Homo sapiens: one gene and its partners. The protein of the gene in region 3 interacts with the protein of the main gene of each other region in a biochemical or structural test. Each region holds a gene or a part of one and is shown on either strand. Other genes may lie near its edges. The genes, in order: ENG, CD44, TGFBR1 and RANBP9.

Region 1 (7,000 bases), about 29 Mb from region 3:
TAGGTGCCCCCATCCCTCACCCCTGCCTCTGCCACCAGTGTCGGGACTCTTCTGCCTGGTGTGGGCCTGGGCCTGGGGGGAACTGATGGAGAGGCTAGAGGGGGCGTCCTGCAGGGAGAGGCCTCAAGGAAGGCAAGGCCAGCACCCACCCTCAAAGGGCCTCTGTCTCACCCAGGAGACTCCATCCTCCCAGCAAGGTCAGCCAATAACTGTGGGGATGGAGTGGAGCCGTGAGTGGGGGCAGAGGCCTAGACTCCCACCCCACAGGGCGGTCCCGGGCAAGGGCTCTCCATCTGCAAAGTGCAGCTCTGGCCCCTGCTCTAGGCTGCTATGGCTCTGGGAAGCCCTCCTCCTGCCCCTTCTGGGCCGCTTTCTCTGGGGTCCCCCTTGCCATGTGCTATGTGCCCAGGCCGTTTCTCAGGGCTGCCCGCTGTGCCCTACTGTGACCTCAGCCACTAGAACAAACCCGAGAGACCTGGAGGGAGCTCACCAGACAGGTCAGGGCTGATGATGTTCAAGCGCATGAAGACAGTCCTATGGACTTCCTGGAGGAGAAAGAGAGAGCAGTATGTGGCACCTTTGGGAGGCGGCTTCCAGGTTTACTCCCTGGCTCCGTGACCCCAGCCCACCCTAGAGCCTTGGCTTTGAATCCCATCTCCACCGCTTCGTAGCTGGATGCCTCTGGGTGAGTCCTGGAAGATCTGTGCTGTGGGAGGGTGCCTAGTGGACGATCCCTGGCTGCTGCTGAAATGTTTCCTGTGAGTTCCTGGAGGCCTTGATGCCCAGGAGCACTGTGGAAGCACTATGCATCCCTCACCCTTGTGAACACTTTGGAGCTATGAGCCAGGTCAGCCCAGAGTCCCAGGCTCACTCTGGCTGGAGGGAGAGGCCCACTTAGGGGAGTTGAAGGCTTCCCTAGCTTCCTATGACCAGAGAAGTTTGTAATCCTGGAGGCCTGTCTGTGCAAGGGCCTGGGGGTGACTCTGGGGGCGTCCAGGATAGATTGCCTGAGAGTGGGGGTCACCAGATGGTGAAGTGTTGTGACTGGCAAATACAGAAAGCCAGGAGTGTGTGTCCTTTGTCCGCCTCTCTTCCCTCAGGTCTCCTGTTCTTTGAGATTACACTGGTGACCATACTACATGGATGTGCGGGTGGTTAGATTCCTGGGTGGGAGGGTGGATGGATGGATGGACGGACGGGTAAGTGAAAGGATGGATGGATGGATAGATGGACAGTGGCAGCTGCATAGTCTGCCAGTGCCCCAGACACAGCAGTCCCACCAGAAAGCTCTCGGGTGGCAGAAAGTGCTGCTGGCAGCCAGACTGCCAGGCCACATGCCTGATTAAGGCTCCGCCCCTCACCAGCTGGCCCCACATCCCTGTGGGCTGCCATGTCCCTTCCTGCAAACCACAGACCTGGAAGCTCCCACTTGAAGCTGGGGCCGGCCCAGGCCCCACTCACCTGGTCTTGAGACCCGGTCTTGGGACGCAGGGCTACCGTGCAGCTGAGGGTGCCGGTTTTGGGTATGGGTACTGTGTAGAAGTGGAGGAGGAAGCTGAAGCGCGGGTCACCCTCGGGGCTTGGGGACAGCAGGCTCACACAGTTGCCCTTGGCCGCCCGGCCCTGGATGAGTTCCACGGTGCCTCCCTCAGGCCCCAAGTCCAGGTGGCAGCTGTCTAACTGGAGCAGGAACTCGGAGACGGATGGGGACACTCTGACCTGCATGGGTAGGTAGGGCCACGCGGCATGGGCAGCTGCTCTTCACCCCACCCCACCTGCTGCCTTCAAATATCGGCTAGAATTAAGAGTTCCCACCCCTGAGTCCTCACAGTGGAAAGAAAGACATGGACCTGTCTGGGGCAGAGGAGGAGGACAGGGCCACATCCTTGTCAGTGTCCCTGAGCAATGCCTTCTCTGTCTCTCCCTCTCCCGTGCACCCAGGCTGTCTCCCTCCTGACTCTGGGAGTCTCATCTCCTCTGGAGTCATGGTGGGAAGAAAGGCGGAGAGGAAGTTCCAGGAGCTGGGAGGCCCGAGGGGTGACAGGCATGCCAGGTACCTGCACAAAGCTCTGCTGCCCCGGCTCGATGGTGTTGGAGGCCTGGAGGAAGTGTGGGCTGAGGTAGAGGCCCAGCTGGAAAGAGAGGCTGTCCATGTTGAGGCAGTGCACCTTTTTCTGGGGGAGGACGGGAGGGAGACTTGGTCAATCTGGCGGCGCCAGCCAGGAGGGCGAGGGGTGTGGGGAGGAACAGGCATCATGGCCCTGTGGAGTTGCCTGACTCTCTTTTTTTTTTTTTTTGAGACGGAGTCTCGCTCTGTCGCCCAGGCTGGAGTGCAGTGGTGCGATCTCAGCTCACTGCAAGCTCCGCCTCCCGGGTTCATGCCATTCTCCTACCTCAGCCTCCCAAGTAGCTGGGATTACAGGTGCCCGCCACCACGCCCGGCTAATTTTTTGTATTTTTAGTAGATACGGGGTTTCACCATGTTAGCCAGGATGGTCTCAATCTCTTCACCTCGTGATCTGCCCGCCTCGGCCTCCCAAAGTGCTGCGATTACAGGCGTGAGCCACTGCGCCCGGCCCTTTTTTTTTTTTTTAAACTAATATTTATCAAGGAGGCACCAGCTGCCAGGCTGTGTGAAGAGCTTCCACACAGCACCTCATTGGCTGCCCAGAAGCACCCTGTGGCGCAGAGTCCTTTCTTAGGCCACCTTTGGGCCCAGAAAACTAAAGTGACTTGCCCAAGGCCACACAGCCAGTATGTGCTAAGCCCTCTGACTTGAGAGACCAAGAGCGTCACCCTCAGCAGTCCTGCTCCGGTCATACAGAAGGGGAGACCGAGGCATTCCAGACACACATGGCTTGCCAGGAGTTTCCCGAGGCCTGCTCCCTCCCAGGCCAGGAAGAGGCCCCGGCCCAGCAGCAGCCCCTGGGCCAGGTGGGTTAGCACGTGACTGTCCATCTCACCCGCTGTGGTGATGAGCTCGACAGGATATTGACCACCGCCTGCGGGGATAAAGCCAGGGAGCTGGTCAGAGCCAGAAAGGACCCCAGAGGGTATCCCACCCAATACGCCCATTTTTGCAGATGGGGAGACTAAGCCAACCAATGGCCAAGCTTGTCTTGTGTTCTGAGCCCCTGCAGCCTGCTCTCCCAAACACACCTCCACCCTGGGGGATCAGGGAGGGCACCTGAGGGGGCACCAACCAGGCTGGTCCTGATACCTTTTTGGCCCCAGCTCTTACCTCATTGCTGATCATACTTGCTGACACCTGCATGCCACAGCTGGAGTAAGCACTGCGCAAGACAAACTTGTCACCCCTGTCCTCTGCCTCACAGCTGGGGTCCCAGAAGGTCAGGCCCGTGATGGTGCACTTCAAATGCTGGGTCGGAAGAGAGGGGCACCATCAGGAGGCACTGGGGTCTCTGTGGCCTGCCACACCCCAGCACCAAGGACTGACCACAACCCAGGGGTCCCAAGTCACAGCCATTCCCCTGCCCTGCTCCCTCTTCATTTTTGTTAGATGTCATCATCCTACACCACTTAAAAGTTCTTTTTTTTGAGATGGAGTCTCACTCTTTTTGCCCAGGTGCAGTGGCTCGATCTTGGCTCACTACAACCTCCACCTCCTGGGTTCAAGCGATTCTCCTGCCTTGGCCTCCTGAGTTGCTGGGATTACAGGCACGTGCCACCATGCCCGGCTACTTTTTTGTATTTTTAGTAGAGATAGGGTTTCACCATGTTGGCCAGGCTGGTCTCAAACTCCTGACCTCAGGTGATCCACCTGCCTCGGCCTCCCATTGCAGGGATTACAGGCGTGAGCCACCGCGCCTGGCCAAATTTTCTTATATCTATCAAAATAAATACAGAACTATTAAAAATATTCCTTCAGGCCGGGTACGGTGGCTCACGCCTGTAATCCCAGCACTTTGGGAGGCTGAGGCAGGTGGATCATGAGGTCAGGAGATCGAGACCATCCTGGCTAACATGATGAAACCCCGTCTCTACTAAAAATACAAAAAAATTAGCCGGGCGTGGTGGCGGGCTCCCGTAGTCCCAGCTACTCGGGAGGCTGAGGCAGGAAAATGGCGTGAGCCCGGGAGGCGGAGTTTGCAGTGAGCCGAGATCGCACCATTGCACTCCAGCCTGGGCAACAGAGCGAGACTCCGTCTCAAAAAAAAAAAATATATATATATATATTCCTTCAAGTTCCACATATAATCATCACTCACAGCCCCAAGGGCATGCAAACCCTGCAAGCATAATCCAGTCTCAGGCCTGGCGTGGGCGAAGTGTTCCTATAAAGAGCCAGATAGTAAATACTGTCATGCACCATGGGACAATGTTGTGGTCGGTGATGGACTGTGTATATGATGGTGGTCCCTGGTCCCATAAAATTATAACGAAGCTGAAAAATTTCTATTGCCTAGTGTTTGTGGTGATGCTGGTGTAAGCAAACTTATTGCACTGCCGGTCATATAAAAGTCTAGCACAGGCTGGGCGTGGTGGCTCACGCCTGTAATCCCAGCACTTTGGTAGGCAGAGGCAGGCAGATCACAGGAGGCCAGAAGTTCGAGACCTGCCTAGCCAACATAGTGAAACCCGACTCTACTAAAATTATAAAAATTAGCCAGGTGTGGTGGCAGACACCCATAGTCCCAGCTACTGGGAAGGCTGAGGCACAAGAATCGCTTGAACCTGAGAGGAGGAGGCTGCAGTGAGCCGAGATCACATCATTGCACTCCAGCCTTGGTGACAGAGCGAGACCTCGTCTCTAAAACAAGAAAAAGAAGGCCAGTTGCAGTGGCTCACGCCTGTAATCCCCGCACTTTGGGAGGCTGAGGTAGGCAGATGACCTGAGGTCGGAAGTTCGAGACCAGCCTGGCCAATATGGTGAAACCCTGTCTCTACTAAAAATACAAAAAAGTAGCTAGGCTGCGGACCAGGCGCCTGATTTCACACCTGTAATCCCAGCACTTTGGGAGGCCGAGGTGGGCGGATCACAAGGTCAGGAGTTCGAGACCAGCCTGACCAACATAGTGAAACCCCGTCTCTGCTAAAAAAAAAAATACAAAAAATAAGCCAAGAGTGGTGGTGGGCACCTGTAATCCCAGCTACTCGGGAGGCTGAGGCAGGAGAATTGCTTGAACCCGGGAGGCAGAGGTTTCAGTGAGCCGAGATTGTGCCATTGTACTCCAGCCCGGGCAATAGTGTGAGACTGTCTTAAAAAAAAAAAAAAAAAAAAAAAGCCAGGCGTGGTGGTGCACGCCTGTATTCCCAACTACTCAGGAGGCTGAGGCAGGAGAATCACTTGAACCCGGGAGGTGGAGGTTGCAGTGAGCCGAGATTGTACCACTGAACTCCAGCCTGGGTGACAGAGCAAGACTGTCTCAAAGAAAAAAAAAGAAAAGAAAAGAAAAACCACTGTAGCCAAAATTGAAAGAATTACAGCAAATCAAGGGAAGTGGTGGCCAAAGGGGCAACCTTTTTTTCTTTATTAAAACTTATAAAAATCATCAAGAAAAATACCAAGCCTCAATGATAAGGAGACTGAGGTTCTCATCACTCACGTGGAACCATGCCCACACTCACTACTAACCAGAGAATTACAACTAAAACAAGAATGGAACGCCATGTGCCTCTTCCCACACTGGCAAAGGTTTCTCTTTTTTTGAATTATAGTCTGGAGACAGCGAAGAGGTTGAGGTGTTCTCGTAAATCAGTGGTGAAAATTCAAATCATCTTTGGGAAAGTGGGTTGGCAACATGTATTGAAACTTCATTCATTTTGACCCAGTAATTCCACTAATGTGGAAATCTATCCTGAGAAAATAATCCTATATAAAGAAATGTTTCATGCACAATGACATTTTTTGCATATTTATAATACTACAGAATTGGGAACAACCTAAATGTGTAACAAGGGAAGAGGAGTTAATTATAGCATGTCAATATGATGGAATAATATGTGCTTATTAAACATGATATTAGGTACAGCTGTCAAAGCTCTAAAAATACATTAAGTGAAATAGTAAGAGACAAATGAACACATCTCTTATGATTACATCAATATAAGAAATACACAGAGAAAACGCTCTAGAAAGAAGCACACCAAAATGTTGGCAGCCATTGTCTTTGTGTCAGAAGGTTAAGATTTTCTAATTTTCACATATTTTTTAAAGCATGTTTTTTGTTTGTTTGTTTGAAATGGAGTCTCGCTCTGTCGCCCAGGCTGGAGTGCAGTGGCACAATCTCAGCTCACTGCAATCTCCCTCTACCGGGTTCAAGCGATTCTCCTGCCTCAGCCTCCTGAGTAGCTGGGACTACAGGCGTGCACCACCACGTCCGGCTAATTTTTTCTATTTTAGTAGAGACAGGGTTTCACCGTGTTGCCCAGGCTGGTCTCAAACTCTTGAGCTCCGGCAATCTGCCTGCCTCGGCCTCCAAAGTGCTAGGGTTACAGGTGTGAGCCACTGTGCCTGGCCAGCATGTGTTCTTTCATTTTATTTTGAGACGAGTCTTGCTCTGTTGCCCAGGCTGGAGTGCAGTGGCATGATCTTGGCTCACTGCAAGCTCCGCCTCCCGGGTTCAGGCCATTCTCCTGCCTCAGCCTCCCAAGTAGCTGGGACTACAGGCGCCTACCACCATGCCTGGCTAATATTTTGTATTCACCATGTGTTATTTTTATAACAAATATATTTGTTTGTCAACCAGGCAGTGATCATATTGTATAGGCTTTTTTTTTTTTCTTTGAGATGGAGTCTCTCTCTGTCACCCAAGCTGGAGTACAGTGGTGCGATCTCAGCTCACTGCAAGCTCTGCCTCCCGGGTTCACACCATTCTCCTGCCTCAGCCTCCCGATTAGCTGGGACTACAGGCGCCTGCCACCACACCCGGTTAATTTTTTGTATTTTTAGTAGGGACAGGGTTTCACTGTGTTAGCCAGGATGGTCTCGATCTCCTGACCTTGTGATCCACCCGCCTCGGCCTCCCAAAGTGCTGGG
Region 2 (7,046 bases), on a different chromosome or scaffold from region 3:
CTGAGTATTGTTGAGAACATGATTTTAAGGTTTGGGGTCTTTTTATACATGAGGCCAGATTTGGAAGTAAAGGTGTAGACAAAGAGGCAGCCAGACCTATAGGAAATCCAGATCCCCGTTCTACTGGACAAAATACAATTAGCTCTAAACTTCCCCTGCCTTGTGTAACATTTCAAACCTCAAGAAAGATCTCTTTAGACTGAAGAGAGTGCAGAGAACAGAAATTTCAAGGGAGGAGGCGGGTTGAGGATCGCTACAAGTAGCAATAGAGAAAAATGAAAGAAGATTTGTATAGACCAGAAAGAAAAAAAATGAAGAAAAAGAATTAGACAGAACCTATAAAAATCACAAAAGATAAGTAACGGAGATGGCTTTGCTAGCCAAGTCTAGAAACATTATTAATTCAGTAAGCCATCCAAGTGTTTATTGAGCACCCACTATAATTGGGGAACTGTGCTGACCGCTCAGGGCTATCATGAATATGAAAATGTATAGAGGGTTTGGGCTTTTCCCTAAGGAGCTTTTATGCTCACTGGCAAAAGAAAAGAGATAACCATTACATGGCATCCTTTAAACTTTCTCTTTTTAAATGGAGATGTGTTTGTGAGGTTTTTATGAATTTTCAGGGGGAACAATAGGAGAAAGCAAGTCACTTAAGGGAGTCTACAGGAATGTACCTGACCTCTAATGATATTGTAAAGACAACTAGTCTCACTGCAGAGGATCCACTGCAAAAACAAACTCCTTGACAGGAGATTTCTTCCCCGAACTTTTATCCCCTCTTGTGGGTTACCTGAATTCCCCTCCCCCTCTTGCAGGCAGATGTGGGCCCAGTAACTCACTGGTGGCTGCGGAGCTGACGTCAGCTGGTTTCCTGCAAGATGGTGCTTAGTTAGCTCTGTTAGATTCTGGTTTTTTGACTGGATACTCAGCAGAGGCAACATCTGTGATTGGCATGTAGTAGCTACTCATTTAAAGTGTGCAAAGACTAGAGCTGGGGGCTTGGGCAGAAATGCCCTTCTAAGCCAAACGCAGGAGACCAGGTGTTGGCTGCATGGAATTGTTCATTTCTCCCTGGCACCTTTTTTTTTTTTGAGACCGAGTTTCGCTCTTGTTGCCCAGGCTGGAGTGCAATGGCGTGATCTTGGCTCACTGCAACCTCTGCCTCCCGGGTTCAAGTGATTCTCCTGCCTCAGCCTCCCAAGTAGCTGAGATTACAGGCATGCACCACCATGCCCGGCTAATTTTTTTGTATTTTTAGTAGAGACGGGGTTTCTCCATGTTGGTCAGGCTGGTCTCGAACTCCCGACCTCAGGTCATCCGCCTGCCTCGGCCTCCCAAAGTGCTGGGATTACAGGTGTGAGCCACCTTTCCCAGCCCTCTCCCTGGCATCTTAATGTGCATAATAGTGAACACTTGCAAAGGGGCTTTACTGTTATCGTGCTACTATCTTGGAAAGGAAGTGGAAAAAGATGCTGCCTAGTTCCACGATTGGTGTGTGGATCCTCCTAGAAGTCACTGCAGACCTGTTAAGTGTAAAGAGATGCACTAAAATTGAAAAAAAAAAAAGTTGGGGGAAGGGGGCTGGAATATGGGATGAGTCCTCATTCCCAGGAAAAGGCCTGCATCCCTTCCTGTGGACTGAGCCAGATGTTCCCAGGGGGCCTTGCCTCCTCCCTTCCTGGGTGGCTTTTTTCTCAGTGAGGGGTACCCAGAGGAAACTCTCTTGCTCCCTGATGGGATGGTCACATGCTGGGCCAAATAGAAGCCTGGTCATCTGGTTTAGGCTAGGGCTGGAGAGAAGGGCTATAGTATACTTCCAGCTTTTGCCAAATTCCTTGTGCCCTGGATATGTACAGCCCTACTCCTGACAGCCTCTTTTCTCAGAGTTTCTCTCCCTCCCTCATCCATTCTAGCCGGTGGAGAGAAGACCCTGGAACCAAGGGCCTGTAAGGTGAGGGCAAATATTTTGCTGCTATTTGATTGGCTCATTTCCCAGTCAAAGTTCTAGCTGATGGAGAAACACTAATCAGCCACCTTTACCTTTCATCCAGGTGACAAATAATGAAGTGATAATGAACAAACAACTCAATTCACATCCCTTTCAGCCCTATCCTATCCTAATGAACAAACAACTCAATTCACATCCCTCTCAGCCCTACCCTATCCTCAACTTTCCATCACATGGAAGAGAGTAGAGCTTCTATTCAGAGATCAGAATGAATGAGTCAACTCAGAATATGCATTGGCAGAAGTTTCCATTACAACTTCCTCCTCCTTCATTTTTGCAATTCTAACCCCTTCCTCTGACATCATGTTTAAAAGCTCAGTGGATGTTATGACCTCACCCACAACTAGATTCCCAAATGAAGTTTTTGAAAACAACTACAGTACTTCCAGGTACAATCGTCTGGATTTCTAGGGTGCCTCGATATCTTAATATACCAAGAGAAGCACTCTAACATAGTGACAAAGAGCATGAACTCTGTAGCCAGATGTGAGTTTGAATCCCAGCGCCATCACTTATCAGCTGCATGGCCTTGGGCAAGCTACTTAAATTCTCTGTGCCTCAGTTTCCTCATATGTAAAAGACAGATAATAACAGCACCACCTTCATGAAGTCAGTGTTTGGATTAAACAAGGCAGTATATAGGAAACAATTAGAATGGCGCTGGTACATGGTCAACACTCTGTAAGTGTTTGCTATTATTACTAATAGTGGTGAGGGTTCTCAGAAACATAGAACTTGTGCAAAGATGCAAACAGAAAAAGCGTAAGAGCTCTCAAAAACAAATGAACTTTCAGGCACTGCGAAGGAGACTTGCAATGCCACAACAGCAGATGCTCAAAATGACTGGTCTATGTGAATAATCTCTTCCCTCAACCCCGGAGTTTTGCAATTAACCTTTACTTTTAAAAGCTGAAGACCTGAAAGTTTCTGGGACCTGAGTTTTGCAAATCACCTCCTTGGTGACTCAGTCCCTCCCCACCCACCTGAGATCTGTCTGCCCACACTTGCACTTCGCAGGGACACTTACCTCAGGAGGACACACCCAGGCAGCCAGTGCAACTCAAACTCGGGGAGATCTGGCTCTGTGAGTTTCCATCGTTCCCCACCCCCACAAGACCCACCCCCTCATTCTGTGTTTGTCTCCCTGTCTCTCAGGTCTAGCTGGGCAGACAATCTTTGGGAAGACAAAACCTGCCCCAGTTATGGGTAATTTCTGACATCACAAGCTCTGTGGAGAGGAGACACCGTTTGCCATTGCCAAAGTGGCTCCCCGTCGGATGTCAGGATTCCCTACGGATTTGCCCCCGAAGAAGCTATGGTAGTATCTGGTCAGATGACAGCTTGATAATTGCCCAAAGAGACCGACAGAGAAGGCAAGAATCTCCCGCATCTCCCATATAGTACTTCTACTTCTCTCCTCTGCCACCACCTTCCAGAAGCAGACATGGGGGTTGGAGGAGTGTGGGCCTCTCACCCAAGGATCTCAACCTCGTATCAGTATCTCCAAAATAACTAGAACCCCAAGGTGGCTGCTGCTGGGGAGTGTTTTTGTTTTGAGGCTTAAATTTGGGGTTGGTGTCCTCATCTCACTGGCTCCCACTCCCTTCTCAGCCCAACTATCTAGTAACCCTGTCTTTAGCCAGATGTCCCCAGCGGTCACAGCAGGCAGCCACCAAAGCCGCAAACAAACAGATGGGTGAGCTCACTGTTTGGGGTAGACCAAACATGAGGCCTGTGGTGGGCAGTCAGCCAGCCAAGTCAGCCCTGTCCTGAGCAACACAGCCATCACCATGGTTCTCACTTACACATAAATGTATTTGCACCTTAGCCCATACTGACAGCATGCTTCCATATATATAGATATCATGACTTTTATATTCTAGACATTCATTGCAGTTCAACAGTTATGGGTCAATATTACTGGGATCTGGGCCCACAAAAATGAATGTGACATGATCCCTGTTATCAGGGGACTCCCCCAGTGCTGCAGAAGACAGGAGAAGATACATTGGAATTTGTTTTGTTGTGGTTATTTTCCCCTTTAAGGGGCATGAAAGTCTTTAGCATTCTTTGGCATCACCAATTCCCACCACACACATAGATCCTTCAGGCATGTACTTATAGGCATACCTGCAATGTGCATATGTCCACATCCAGCAAACAAGAATCAAACATGTGGCTTATCTTGGTACGTCACCCAGTGGGGCAATTGAGCAATGGAGAGGGGAGGAATATGAAATACTTACCTCCAAAGTACACATGTCCTGAATCAAACATTAATTTAATTGACACCATCCTAGTTAAGGAGTTGTAAAGATGTGAATTTCTTTATGCAAAAAGCATTTTTAAAAAGTGTTTGACTTTCAATTACATTAAGTCATGTATTTATTTGTGGAAAAATATATAAACATTTAGTCAAAATATGCACTAGACATCAATTGGTAGAGTGTTTGCATATTTGAGATCCTGACTCTCCCAGAAAATCTGGAACGCACAATGACTGTATCCATGCCTGGCCAGACTCCAGAACCACAAACTTTAGAAAGCACCCCTTCCGGTTTACTCTGGCAAGTTGGGCTTGCCTCGCAAACCCAGTTGGGCAGCTGTGGGGGGTACACTTAAAAAAAATTCAACCTGCTAAGTGAGTGAAAAGTGGGATTCAAATTTAAGGTAGAAGGTATCAACCTACCCTGCCATTCTAAAGAACGCCTACAACCTTCCCATTAAAGCAGGGACACAAAGGAAATTGAGTCATCGGTTTCTTGCTGTGCAAACCCCAGAATTTCTCTCTGAGGCAGAAAAAGATCCCCTTTGAAAACTACACGGTGCCTGGTAGCATCTGCCACCTGCTTCAGCTCATTCTTTCGCAAGAACCACTTCCCTTTCAGGCTCTTCGGTGGAGTGACCTAAAGCGAAGGTGCCGGGGAAGCACAATTGCAGTTACTCTCTTATCCCCAGCCCCAGCCCCAGCCAGGAGGCAGTGCTGAGGAGGCCCAGGTGATCTCCAACCACCTCCTCTCCATCAGGGGACCCCAGCCTTGAAGCATCTGACACTGCAGGTGGATCCGAAACCTCACTTGGGTGGCCACATGTCACCTAGAGCCACACACTGGGTTTCAGTTCAAGACCCATGTCAGCCTCCTACCCAGGGTCGCACAACCTACTAATGAGCATGTGAGGAGTGGGTCTCTGGGTCTGTGCATGTGAAATGCTTGCCTGGTCAGAGTGAGAGCTCCTGTAATGCTGCTTTCCTAATATTCAGGCAGAGGGCATTGCCCTAACTTGTCCTGTAGACAAGCAACCACCTCTCTCTTTATTCCAAGCCTGTAAATCAGAGCATATCTGGGAGGGCAGCTGGACTCTGATAAGGGATGTGATTTATTTTAGTTACAAATAACTTGGTTGGCATCTCTGATATCTGTGGCCAAACCTGGGGAGAGACAGGCCAGGGCAGGGCAGCCAAGAGTCCACAGCCTGCCGGGGATGGAGAGAGAAGCCACCCATGCAAGAGTTCACTTATGCTGGCCACAGGGGACAGGTAGTGTGGGAGAGCCACGTATAGCTTCCAAAGTCCTCCAGACACGTAATGAATTGAAGGAGCATAAGCATTGGAGTCTAACATGGGAGGATGTTAGATAATGCGGAAATCCCAACTCCACCACTGGATCCTGGGGCAAGTCATGCCATCTCCACAAGTCTCGATCTCTTTATCTAGAAAATGGAGTTAAAGAGAGTGCTAGGTGTATTGGGCTGTTGGGAGGCTTAGATAAGATATCCTGTGCTACCCCCGGCTTCACATCTAGTATAGAGTCAGTGCTCACTGAGCAGTATTTCCTAGAGACTCAGGACTTAGGACCCTGCTTTACACAGGACCATATGGTACCACAGCAGAGCATCAGGTTTTTAAAACTTTGGTGCTCCTGACCATCTAGCGATGTTCCAGGAGGTGCTAGAAGCCCCAGGACAATACAGAGAATCATTGTCGAACACCAACATTGCTATATGGTCAAAAATATATATCATTATTATTGTATTAAACTCAAATTGGGTATATTGTAGAGTAATATATAAAACTGTAATGAGTCTGTAAGGTAGTATTTAAGGTGTGAAACAAATGTTGTTACCCCAGTAGACCACACCCTCCCCACCCACTGCAGGGGGTGGGGTTGAGGCTCCCACAGTCCTCATGATAGAGATACATGAGAGAAATGCCCTGCCCTAATATCTTAACAAGTCGCAGAGAGGGGAAGTCACTAGTCCCTCTCTTTCAGATTTTCTAAATGATCCTTAGAGTTCCCATCTCTGAGTCTATGACAATGAGTCAGGAAATAGTTCCTGAATGAATGGAAGGGAATCTGTCATGAACTAAGAATTTCATGCTGTCCAGCATCCCCTCCTTTGTGGGGAAATTTGGGAAAAAACAAATGGAACATTTTCCTACTGGCTGCCAGCCTCCCACACAAGGACTTGTCACCATGCCTTTGCAGCAAGTAGATGTCCAATGTGTAAATGGGGAATACCTGAATTAGTTGATGCTAGCCCCAACAGAGATGAAGCTTTGCCTCTTTGCTCCTTCACATGGGAAAACACAGCTAAAGTTCTAACTCCCAGCAGGGGGCGGAGTCTCTAATGCTCAATTAGAGAGAAGGGAGCAGAAAGGTGTGTGCCAGCCCTAAGACCCAGGGCTCTCAGACGCTCTCCTCTTTCTCAACACCAGGCATGCAATTCCCAAGCAAAGATCCCCTCACCCAGTCTATCATTGTTGGACATTTGGGTTGGTTCCAAGTCTTTGCTATTGTGAATAATGCCACAATAAACATACATGTGCATGTGTCTTTATAGCAGCATGATTTGTAGTCCTTTGGGTATATACCCAGTAATGGGATGGCTGGGTCAAATGGTATTTCTAGTTCTAGATCCCTGAGGAATCGCCACACTGACTTCCACAATGGTTGAACCCTAAAACTTAAAGTATAATAATAATTAAAAAAAAAGATCCCCTCACCCACAGAGACAAGGAGATGCATGTGCATGA
Region 3 (4,626 bases):
TATGTCATTTGGTATTCTATTCTGAAAATGCCTTTCTCCTACCAAAATGTGCTTAAGCCACTAAAGAAATGAAGTGGCATTAATTAGTAAATTATTAGCATGGTCATGTTTGAATATTCTCACATCAAGCTTTTGCATTTTAATTGTGTTGTCTAAGTATACTTTTAAAAAATCAAGTGGCACTCTAGATGCTTATAGTACTTTAATATTTGTAGCATACAGACTAATTTTTCTAAAAGGGAAAGTCTGTCTAGCTGCTTGTGAAAAGTTATGTGGTATTCTGTAAGCCATTTTTTTCTTTATCTGTTCAAAGACTTATTTTTTAAGACATGAATTACATTTAAAATTAGAATATGGTTAATATTAAATAATAGGCCTTTTTCTAGGAAGGCGAAGGTAGTTAATAATTTGAATAGATAACAGATGTGCAAGAAAGTCACATTTGTTATGTATGTAGGAGTAAACGTTCGGTGGATCCTCTGTCTTTGTAACTGAGGTTAGAGCTAGTGTGGTTTTGAGGTCTCACTACACTTTGAGGAAGGCAGCTTTTAATTCAGTGTTTCCTTATGTGTGCGTACATTGCAACTGCTTACATGTAATTTATGTAATGCATTCAGTGCACCCTTGTTACTTGGGAGAGGTGGTAGCTAAAGAACATTCTGAGTATAGGTTTTTCTCCATTTACAGATGTCTTTGGTCAAATATTGAAAGCAAACTTGTCATGGTCTTCTTACATTAAGTTGAAACTAGCTTATAATAACTGGTTTTTACTTCCAATGCTATGAAGTCTCTGCAGGGCTTTTACAGTTTTCGAAGTCCTTTTATCACTGTGATCTTATTCTGAGGGGAGAAAAAACTATCATAGCTCTGAGGCAAGACTTCGACTTTATAGTGCTATCAGTTCCCCGATACAGGGTCAGAGTAACCCATACAGTATTTTGGTCAGGAAGAGAAAGTGGCCATTTACACTGAATGAGTTGCATTCTGATAATGTCTTATCTCTTATACGTAGAATAAATTTGAAAGACTATTTGATCTTAAAACCAAAGTAATTTTAGAATGAGTGACATATTACATAGGAATTTAGTGTCAATTTCATGTGTTTAAAAACATCATGGGAAAAATGCTTAGAGGTTACTATTTTGACTACAAAGTTGAGTTTTTTTCTGTAGTTACCATAATTTCATTGAAGCAAATGAATGAGTTTGAGAGGTTTGTTTTTATAGTTGTGTTGTATTACTTGTTTAATAATAATCTCTAATTCTGTGATCAGGTACTTTTTTTGTGGGGGTTTTTTTTTTGTTTTTTTTTTTTTGTTGTTGTTTTTGGGCCATTTCTAAGCCTACCAGATCTGCTTTATGAAATCCAGGGGACCAATGCATTTTATCACTAAAACTATTTTTATATAATTTTAAGAATATACCAAAAGTTGTCTGATTTAAAGTTGTAATACATGATTTCTCACTTTCATGTAAGGTTATCCACTTTTGCTGAAGATATTTTTTATTGAATCAAAGATTGAGTTACAATTATACTTTTCTTACCTAAGTGGATAAAATGTACTTTTGATGAATCAGGGAATTTTTTTAAAGTTGGAGTTTAGTTCTAAATTGACTTTACGTATTACTGCAGTTAATTCCTTTTTTGGCTAGGGATGGTTTGATAAACCACAATTGGCTGATATTGAAAATGAAAGAAACTTAAAAGGTGGGATGGATCATGATTACTGTCGATAACTGCAGATAAATTTGATTAGAGTAATAATTTTGTCATTTAAAAACACAGTTGTTTATACTGCCCATCCTAGGATGCTCACCTTCCAAGATTCAACGTGGCTAAAACATCTTCTGGTAAATTGTGCGTCCATATTCATTTTGTCAGTAGCCAGGAGAAATGGGGATGGGGGAAATACGACTTAGTGAGGCATAGACATCCCTGGTCCATCCTTTCTGTCTCCAGCTGTTTCTTGGAACCTGCTCTCCTGCTTGCTGGTCCCTGACGCAGAGACCGTTGCCTCCCCCACAGCCGTTTGACTGAAGGCTGCTCTGGAGACCTAGAGTAAAACGGCTGATGGAAGTTGTGGGACCCACTTCCATTTCCTTCAGTCATTAGAGGTGGAAGGGAGGGGTCTCCAAGTTTGGAGATTGAGCAGATGAGGCTTGGGATGCCCCTGCTTTGACTTCAGCCATGGATGAGGAGTGGGATGGCAGCAAGGTGGCTCCTGTGGCAGTGGAGTTGTGCCAGAAACAGTGGCCAGTTGTATCGCCTATAAGACAGGGTAAGGTCTGAAGAGCTGAGCCTGTAATTCTGCTGTAATAATGATAGTGCTCAAGAAGTGCCTTGAGTTGGTGTACAGTGCCATGGCCATCAAGAATCCCAGATTTCAGGTTTTATTACAAAATGTAAGTGGTCACTTGGCGATTTTGTAGTACATGCATGAGTTACCTTTTTTCTCTATGTCTGAGAACTGTCAGATTAAAACAAGATGGCAAAGAGATCGTTAGAGTGCACAACAAAATCACTATCCCATTAGACACATCATCAAAAGCTTATTTTTATTCTTGCACTGGAAGAATCGTAAGTCAACTGTTTCTTGACCATGGCAGTGTTCTGGCTCCAAATGGTAGTGATTCCAAATAATGGTTCTGTTAACACTTTGGCAGAAAATGCCAGCTCAGATATTTTGAGATACTAAGGATTATCTTTGGACATGTACTGCAGCTTCTTGTCTCTGTTTTGGATTACTGGAATACCCATGGGCCCTCTCAAGAGTGCTGGACTTCTAGGACATTAAGATGATTGTCAGTACATTAAACTTTTCAATCCCATTATGCAATCTTGTTTGTAAATGTAAACTTCTAAAAATATGGTTAATAACATTCAACCTGTTTATTACAACTTAAAAGGAACTTCAGTGAATTTGTTTTTATTTTTTAACAAGATTTGTGAACTGAATATCATGAACCATGTTTTGATACCCCTTTTTCACGTTGTGCCAACGGAATAGGGTGTTTGATATTTCTTCATATGTTAAGGAGATGCTTCAAAATGTCAATTGCTTTAAACTTAAATTACCTCTCAAGAGACCAAGGTACATTTACCTCATTGTGTATATAATGTTTAATATTTGTCAGAGCATTCTCCAGGTTTGCAGTTTTATTTCTATAAAGTATGGGTATTATGTTGCTCAGTTACTCAAATGGTACTGTATTGTTTATATTTGTACCCCAAATAACATCGTCTGTACTTTCTGTTTTCTGTATTGTATTTGTGCAGGATTCTTTAGGCTTTATCAGTGTAATCTCTGCCTTTTAAGATATGTACAGAAAATGTCCATATAAATTTCCATTGAAGTCGAATGATACTGAGAAGCCTGTAAAGAGGAGAAAAAAACATAAGCTGTGTTTCCCCATAAGTTTTTTTAAATTGTATATTGTATTTGTAGTAATATTCCAAAAGAATGTAAATAGGAAATAGAAGAGTGATGCTTATGTTAAGTCCTAACACTACAGTAGAAGAATGGAAGCAGTGCAAATAAATTACATTTTTCCCAAGTGCCAGTGGCATATTTTAAAATAAAGTGTATACGTTGGAATGAGTCATGCCATATGTAGTTGCTGTAGATGGCAACTAGAACCTTTGAGTTACAAGAGTCTTTAGAAGTTTTCTAACCCTGCCTAGTGCAAGTTACAATATTATAGCGTGTTCGGGGAGTGCCCTCCTGTCTGCAGGTGTGTCTCTGTGCCTGGGGGCTTTTCTCCACATGCTTAGGGGTGTGGGTCTTCCATTGGGGCATGATGGACCTGTCTACAGGTGATCTCTGTTGCCTTTGGGTCAGCACATTTGTTAGTCTCCTGGGGGTGAAAACTTGGCTTACAAGAGAACTGGAAAAATGATGAGATGTGGTCCCCAAACCCTTGATTGACTCTGGGGAGGGGCTTTGTGAATAGGATTGCTCTCACATTAAAGATAGTTACTTCAATTTGAAGGCTGGATTTAGGGATTTTTTTTTTTCCTTATAACAAAGACATCACCAGGATATGAAGCTTTTGTTGAAAGTTGGAAAAAAAGTGAAATTAAAGACATTCCCAGACAAATACTAAGACAATTTGTTGCCTATGGACGTCTGCCTTACAAGAAATACTAAATCCTTCACACAGAAAATAAATGACACCAGATGGTAACCTGAATCCACAGGATGAAATGAAGAGCACCAGAAATGGTGGATATATGTACAACTAGCAAAGACTGTATGATTGTATAGCTGCCATAAATTACTACAAATGCCCTGGCTTAAAGCAACACCTATTTATGATCTCAGAATTCCATAATTCAGAAGTCTAGGCATAGCTCAGATGGTTCTCTGCTCCATATTTTAAAAGGTCAAAATGAAGGCATTGGCTGGGCAACATTCTTTTCTGGAGGCTCGGATGAATAGGCTTCCAAGCTCATTGAGGTTGTTGGCAGAATTCAGCTCCATATGGTTGTAAGACAGGTTGGCCAGGGGTGGTTGTCAGTTTCTAGAAGCCACTCAAATTCTTTGGCTCGTGGTTCCCTCCTCCATCATCAAAACCAGCAGCAATGGGTTGAATCATCCTTGCACTTTTCTCGGATCTCCCCTTCTGC
Region 4 (7,046 bases), on a different chromosome or scaffold from region 3:
ACACAGAAATTATCCGCTCTTGATCTTTACCTTGTTTTGTACTGAAAAATACTTGTTATAACTATTAAAGATATAAGACATAAATACAGAAAATGAAAATATGGTAGGATTTGGAGTTGCAAGAGGAAAAATCAGTTTTGGATGTGGTATCAGACAAACTTGTGTTCCAATTCCATCTCTGCCATTTGTTAGCAGAACGACCATGAGCAAGTTATTTAACCTTGAATCCTCATTTTCTCTGTCTTTGAAGTAGAAATAATAATAGTGGCCTCACAGAATTATGATTAAACCCTGGCATTTAGTAGCCACTCAGAAACTCATTCTGCCTTTAGATGTAACAACCAATTAGTGACATAGCCAAAAGAATGACCCCTGTATTTTTTGTTTACTTGAAGTTATCACCTTTTCATCTTGATTAACCTTGAAACCATGGAGTGTACCTGAATGCATTTCTGAGTTTGGGTATATTCAGATTCATCCTTTTCCTCCCTTGAAATACATATATTTGAGGTTTTGTGTTTTTTTTTTAATATAGAGAATCTCCACTCTTCCTGGCACTGTGTTTTGCTTATAGTTATGGTCTTATCCCCTTCCCTTTGTAAAGTTAGGCATCCCAAATATACAGAATGAAAACAGTAAATTTAAGCTATTAAATGCCAGACTAGCTGAGATCATACTTTTATGATAACTAGCTTTAACATGCAGTTTATAGAAATGTATCATATATAAAATGTGGGATAAACCTGAGTTATGTGTTTATAGTTGAATTTCTGTAACTACTATATGACATAATCTTAGAACAAGAATTACATGCACATATATTAGTAGCATAATACCACGTGGTATAATACAACGTAGTCCCTGAATAAATAAAACAGAGATCTTGGGTCTCTTTGTTTTTTCTTGATGATTACATTGCAGGAAGTGATATTTTTTCATCTAACATATAATGTATTTTAGATCATTTGTTTTAGCCTTCTAATATTTTGATTGGGATTTTAAAATATGAAGTAAATTTATAGTTCTATTCTTTTAAATGTAACATTAAAAGAATTATTAAATCTAACATAAAATGGATAGATGTTTAATGAAATATGCTATCTTACAGCCAAATTTGTATCCTACTGTGGGGCTTCAAACACCAGGAGAAGTGGTCGATGCCAATTTTGGGCAACATCCTTTCGTGTTTGATATAGAAGACTATATGCGGGAGTGGAGAACCAAAATCCAGGCACAGATAGATCGATTTCCTATCGGAGATCGAGAAGGAGAATGGCAGACCATGATACAAAAGTAAGAGTGAAGAAATTTCAATTGATGCTATTCAGAATCTGTTTTTTATAAGACATTTATTCTGTTGGTATCCACAGAAGCTTTTTAATCCACTAATTTATATACTGACATATCTATTATATTATTGATTTTAATCTCTCAACGAAAAGTAATTTACTCCACTATTTAAACAAATTAAAAACAATTGTTTGACACACGTACAGAATTGTATTTCAGTCTGAATTAATTTGATGAAGGAAATAAAATGATGTTAGGTCACCTAGGCTAGGTTAATTCATTTGCTATTCTTAGTAATAGGATTTAATGATTTCTGTAGGTTATACAATTTAACTTTTAATAATGTTAATGGAAAAGATAAAGTTGAGAGATAATCTAGATCTTATAATCAGGATCTGTGGTTTTTGGTCATGAACTTGGCTATGTCCAAGCTCTTAATATCTGAACTATCAGCAGTAGTTAAGTATGGACTTAAAATTTAAATAAATACCATTAAATTTAAAAAGTCCTCTTCACTATTATAATCCAGGTCAAGAAAATAGCAGACTTTCAGATACAGTTGGTCCAACACATTTCATCTTTAATGTCCTTATAATTGCTTTGAATATTCTTAACTTTAAAATTGTAATAAAATGTTGGGGGTATTTTTTAGAAAAGGAAGTGATTGGGAGACATGATGATGACTCTGAAATCACACTTCGTCCCTGGAGCTATTATCATCTGTATTACAGAGATTGGACACTAGTTTTTTTGTCCAGCCCAGTTGAGAATAGACAACCCTGATGCAGAATCCTATAGTCACCACGAAGTGAAGCTAGAATGGGTTGTTCTGGGGCCACACTGTTTTAATGCTCTGAAAATGGTTACCACTGAGTATCATGGCAAGATAGTAGAAAACATTTATCTTAACCTTATAACCAGGATCCTTCCACCCACTTCTTCACTGACTTGATGTTCACCATGAACTCTTGAGAAGTCCATTCTAAAAGGTCCCCTCCCCCTTAAATTAATTTGAACAATTGGGTAAAATAAGATGCAGATCTGTTTCTTAGACATTTTCCTCCCTTTTCTCCCTCCGCTCTTTGCCTCAGTCTCCTCCTGTGGTGAACCACTGCTTCCCACGATTTTCTAACTGGCCCTTAGTAGTGTCAGGTGGAGGCAAGTTTAAAAATTGACTGTTTGGAGATAACAGATATTTGGGTTAATATTGTTGCATCACCAGTTTTTCTAACCACATCTTGTGGGTAGATGTAAGTATATGTTTTGACTACCTGGTACGTTTTTAAAAGATTATTGTCTTGGAAATGTGTCACTTACATGTAAACCATATTTGATAAATCTCTTGGGTAAAACCATAGTAATTGATTTAGATTAGAAGGCTGATTCCTCCTTTAATTAGTAGTACACTTATAGACATGTTCTGGAAGATTGTCTCTCTGGATTCACCTTAGTATTCTGTACATACTTTGTGATCCCACTTCATTTAACCGGTGTGTAAAGAAGATGGTTGAACTCTGGAACATTAAGAGTTAATCTTTTATTTTAAAGTTGGTTATTTTACAGAATGCCAGCAATACTGGAATAAGTCATATGATAAAGTCAAAATAGAAATTATGGTTAGTAGGGCTGAATAATAAGATAGGAAGGGACCTGGGGGTAATGAGAGTCCAAGAATCAAAGAAAAGGTCATTTAATGTCCTTGATTCTCAAGTAATATTTATTTTAGGGAGAGTAGTCTCAACATAGCATTTGCAGTTATCTTTTCGAAAATAGTACATGAATAGAACAAAATGATGTTTTTCAAAAGCTTACTTTAAAGGTGAGGTTCTTAACGCCTTGTTTCAAGGAAATAGGTTCGTTTTTATAACACCAGAATAGATTTTGTTTATATAAATTGTAGTATGAAGCATGTATTCTCTTCACTAAAAGATGTATGTTTCTTCTTTTTATTTTAAGAATGGTTTCATCTTATTTAGTCCACCATGGGTACTGTGCCACAGCAGAGGCCTTTGCCAGATCTACAGACCAGACCGTTCTAGAAGAATTAGCTTCCATTAAGAATAGACAAAGTAAGGACACTGTGGTGCATGGCTAACATTTGTTTTCAGATTATAGATTTGGTTACTTTAATTTTTAGAAATTTTGTTTTTTTAATTAAAAAAATTTCAAATATATTAATTTAAAATGGATGCCTCTGAATTTTATTTTCACTGACATTTTTGAAGATCAGTTTAAAAATTCACATAGGACTATGTCAGAATTCTAATTCTAGAGAGATTTTACAGAAGTTTTTTGAAGGAATGTCTTTACCATTTTTTTCTTAAATGTTTTCTTAAGCTTTCAGGAAATAAACATTTAATAAAAAGATTTAAAAATAATAATAAAGTAGTCCTGATTAGTTGGAGGAGATAGTATGTGAAAGAAATGTAAATATCTTTGAATTTAAATGGCTAATACAGTATTGATCCATAAGTATTTATTATTTAGATCCTAGTGCTGGCCTCTGTGGCCAGAGATAAAACAGGTCCTGTATAACAATGGCAAGTCAGCATAACTGGTCCATAGTTAGCCATCCTAAAATTGGTGCTGTTTGTCCATCAGGGTGGGTATGACTTGACAAGAGTATAGAGATGAAAACAAAATAGATGGGTGAAATTAATGGGTGAAAACAACTATTTCATAGGTCAAATTGCTGTAATAGCACTGATTACATTGGGTTGTAGTTAATTGTGTGCTGTCCTTTTCTACTATTTTAATAAGCTCTGTTGAACAGAGATCACTTACTCATTTTGTATCCTTATCATCTAATTTAACATATAACAGATCAAGTGAATGCTCAACGAGTCTCTGTTAAATTGGAATCTTAGTCAAAAGCTAGCATTTTTCAGTCCTTTGTTCAGAAGATTATGTTTGATAAGGCATTTTAGTATCCCTTTAAAACAGTCTTTTTAATCTCAGTGTTTGAAACTTCAATATTGCATAATAGGTATTTTAACTATATTACTCGTATGTTCGTGATTTTAAAAAAAAAATTTGTGACCGTACTTGTTTTTCTAATTTTCTAGTATGTCTGAAATGTTTCCTGGATTGCCTAATGGAAACTATGATGTTAGAGAAAGAAATTGAAATTAATCATAATTTATTTAAAGATTTCTTACTAACTTTCTTTTCTGAGGTCACTAAGTTTATGTTTTATCTACTTTTGTAAAAGTTAATCGTTTGCTTTCTTTTACTGAATAGGAATTCAGAAATTGGTATTAGCAGGAAGAATGGGAGAAGCCATTGAAACAACACAACAGTTATACCCAAGTTTACTTGAAAGAAATCCTAATCTCCTTTTCACATTAAAGTGAGTTTGCATAATAAAATGCTATATTTGTTATATATTATAAATATTTGTCAAGTTATGTAATAAAAGACATTTTCGTGCTTTTGTAATTTTAGTTTTTTTCGTTTTTCAAGTATATACAATTTTGTAATGTCATTTAAGCAACATGTTATGAAAAATACTTTTGTGTTAAGGACCATAAGCAGAAGGTGTCTTTTGCTATGTATTTGCTTTTATTATTCTATTTATGTGTTTAAAAATGTGAAAATCTTATTTAGAAGATGGGTGTCTATTTTTCCTTCTCAGAAGTACCTTACATTTAATCTCTCTGGCATTTTAAAAAATTGTGGTAAAATATACATAAAATTTACCATTTTTTACATTCACATCATTGTGCAACCATCACCACCATCCGACTCCAGAACTTCTCCATCTTCCCAAACTGAAACTCTCTATTAAACACTAACCATCCATTCATCCCCCTAGCCCCTGGAAACCACCATTCTACATTTTGCCTCTATGAATTTGACTACCCATATAAGTAGAATCAGAGTATTTATTCTTCATTACTGGCTTATTTTAGTGTAATAGCCTTAAGGTTCATCTTTATTGTAGTATGTATCAGAATTTTCTTCCTTTTAAAGGCTGAATTTTACTCCATTGTTTGGATAATACTGCATTTTGTTTATCCATTCATCCACTGATGGACACTTAAAGTTTGCTTCTACCTCTTGGCTGTTATGAATAATTCTGCTGTGAACATAGGTGTACAAATATCTGAGTCCCTGCATTAGATTTTTTTGGTTATATACCCAGAAGTGAACTTTCTGGATCATATGGTAATTCTATGTTTAACTATTTTTTTTTAATAATAGCCATCCTGATTTGACAATTTTAATTGGTTTTATGAATCTTTGTTACTTAAAAAATGAGATGTTACTGAGCTTCAGATTTCAACTTGTTAAGCAACAGATATCCTTTGTAAGTCAAATGACAGAATTGTTTTGCTTTAGAATAAGAATTTTAAATGAGGCCCATTTTGGTTAAGAGGTTGGGAATGGGACGGGTGGGGAGAAAGGCTACGCTTTATATGTATCTCATATACATAAAATCATGTCCTTAGGCACAATTTGATTTGCTACCAAGCGCAAATGTTATTTTGATTAAATTACTTGTAGCCAAAAAAATGGGGTTCATATCTTCTTATAGGTAAATTTCCATTTGGTAAATCCTGATTAAAGGGGGTAATATTATTATAGTGTCTATTACATTGTACTCTCATTTTTCTGGAAATTCTAAAATTCTAAGCATTAAAGCATAGGACACCATATTTAATATTTTTAGCTTACTAAAGACCAATCCTACTGATAAATCAAAGTTTTAAAAATATTTTTAGAAATCTGTTGCTATTAAATAAAAGGCCATTTGAAGATTGTGTCTAAGTAAATTTTTCTTTTCTCCTTTAGAGTGCGTCAGTTTATAGAAATGGTGAATGGTACAGATAGTGAAGTACGATGTTTGGGAGGCCGAAGTCCAAAGTCTCAAGACAGTTATCCTGTTAGTCCTCGACCTTTTAGTAGTCCAAGTATGAGCCCCAGCCATGGAATGAATATCCACAATTTAGCATCAGGCAAAGGAAGCACCGCACATTTTTCAGGTGAGATTTAACTTATGACATTATTTTTAGATTTTTCCTCTTTATAATCTTAAACCTTTTTCCTTTTGAAAATCTGTATATTTCCAGCTGGGCACGGTGGCTCACGCTTGTAATCCCAGCACTTTGGGAGGCCAGGGTGGGCGGATCACGAGGTCAGGAGTTCGAGACCAGCCTGGCCAACATGGTGATAACCCCATCTCTACTAAAAATACAAAAATCAGCTGGGCATGGTGGCAGGTGCCTGTAGTCCCAGCTACTCGGGAGGCTGAGGCAGGAGAATTGCTTGAATCCTGGAGGCAGAGGTTGCAGTGAGCTGAGATCACGTCACTGCACTCCAGCCTGGGTGACAGAGGGACACTCCATTTGTCTCAGAAAATCTGTATATTTCCTTTGTAGCTGTTTTCAAATGTGTATACTTAAGATTTTTCTGGGTGAAAAATTGTAGGTTCAGATTGACATGTTCTCAGTACCAGGAAGTCACTTGAAGAACAGCTGTCTGAGAATAGGTTATTAGCAGACCTTCCTAAATGAAAGTCAGCATTCACAATGAGTAGTCACCAGAATTAAATTATTGATTTTTAATAGTGAAAAGGTAATTGTGTGTTTTAATAAAATATAAATTTAAAGGTGATGTGGCTGTGATACCTTATGCCACTGGTTACCACATCTAGCTGGGCTGCCGCTGCCTCCCTCCTCTCCCCCCACCCCCAACCTTTCCCAACCAAGCCTCTTGCAAAAGTCAGCTCTGCCTAGTTCGTTTTCTCCCATCCG

What was found.
Region 1: of the proteins of TGFBR1 (region 3) and ENG, one has a biochemical effect on the other in vitro, tested with the Homo sapiens proteins (one study listed by BioGRID).
Region 2: the proteins of TGFBR1 (region 3) and CD44 form a complex in vitro, tested with the Homo sapiens proteins (one study listed by BioGRID).
Region 4: the proteins of TGFBR1 (region 3) and RANBP9 form a complex in vitro, tested with the Homo sapiens proteins (one study listed by BioGRID).

The regions. Positions count from the first base shown.
Region 1 is NC_000009.12:127,816,659-127,823,658, forward strand, and holds part of ENG (endoglin isoform 1 precursor), read right to left. Parts: intron 5,863-7,000; exon of another isoform or gene 5,680-5,862; intron 4,841-5,679; exon of another isoform or gene 4,537-4,840; intron 3,380-4,536; coding exon 3,242-3,379; intron 3,003-3,241; coding exon 2,964-3,002; intron 2,175-2,963; coding exon 2,058-2,174; intron 2,054-2,057; exon of another isoform or gene 1,942-2,053; intron 1,732-1,941; exon of another isoform or gene 1,720-1,731; coding exon 1,462-1,719; intron 1,200-1,461; exon of another isoform or gene 1,101-1,199; intron 686-1,100; exon of another isoform or gene 546-685; coding exon 491-545; exon of another isoform or gene 1-490. UniProt on the Homo sapiens protein: Vascular endothelium glycoprotein that plays an important role in the regulation of angiogenesis. Required for normal structure and integrity of adult vasculature. Regulates the migration of vascular endothelial cells.
Region 2 is NC_000011.10:35,142,140-35,149,185, reverse strand, and holds part of CD44 (CD44 antigen isoform 1 precursor), read right to left. Parts: intron 1-7,046. UniProt on the Homo sapiens protein: Cell-surface receptor that plays a role in cell-cell interactions, cell adhesion and migration, helping them to sense and respond to changes in the tissue microenvironment.
Region 3 is NC_000009.12:99,150,096-99,154,721, forward strand, and holds the end of TGFBR1 (TGF-beta receptor type-1 isoform 1 precursor), read left to right. Parts: 3' UTR 1-4,097; downstream 4,098-4,626. UniProt on the Homo sapiens protein: Transmembrane serine/threonine kinase forming with the TGF-beta type II serine/threonine kinase receptor, TGFBR2, the non-promiscuous receptor for the TGF-beta cytokines TGFB1, TGFB2 and TGFB3.
Region 4 is NC_000006.12:13,638,792-13,645,837, reverse strand, and holds part of RANBP9 (ran-binding protein 9), read left to right. Parts: intron 1-1,108; coding exon 1,109-1,293; intron 1,294-3,246; coding exon 3,247-3,359; intron 3,360-4,530; coding exon 4,531-4,639; intron 4,640-6,084; coding exon 6,085-6,275; intron 6,276-7,046. UniProt on the Homo sapiens protein: May act as scaffolding protein, and as adapter protein to couple membrane receptors to intracellular signaling pathways. Acts as a mediator of cell spreading and actin cytoskeleton rearrangement.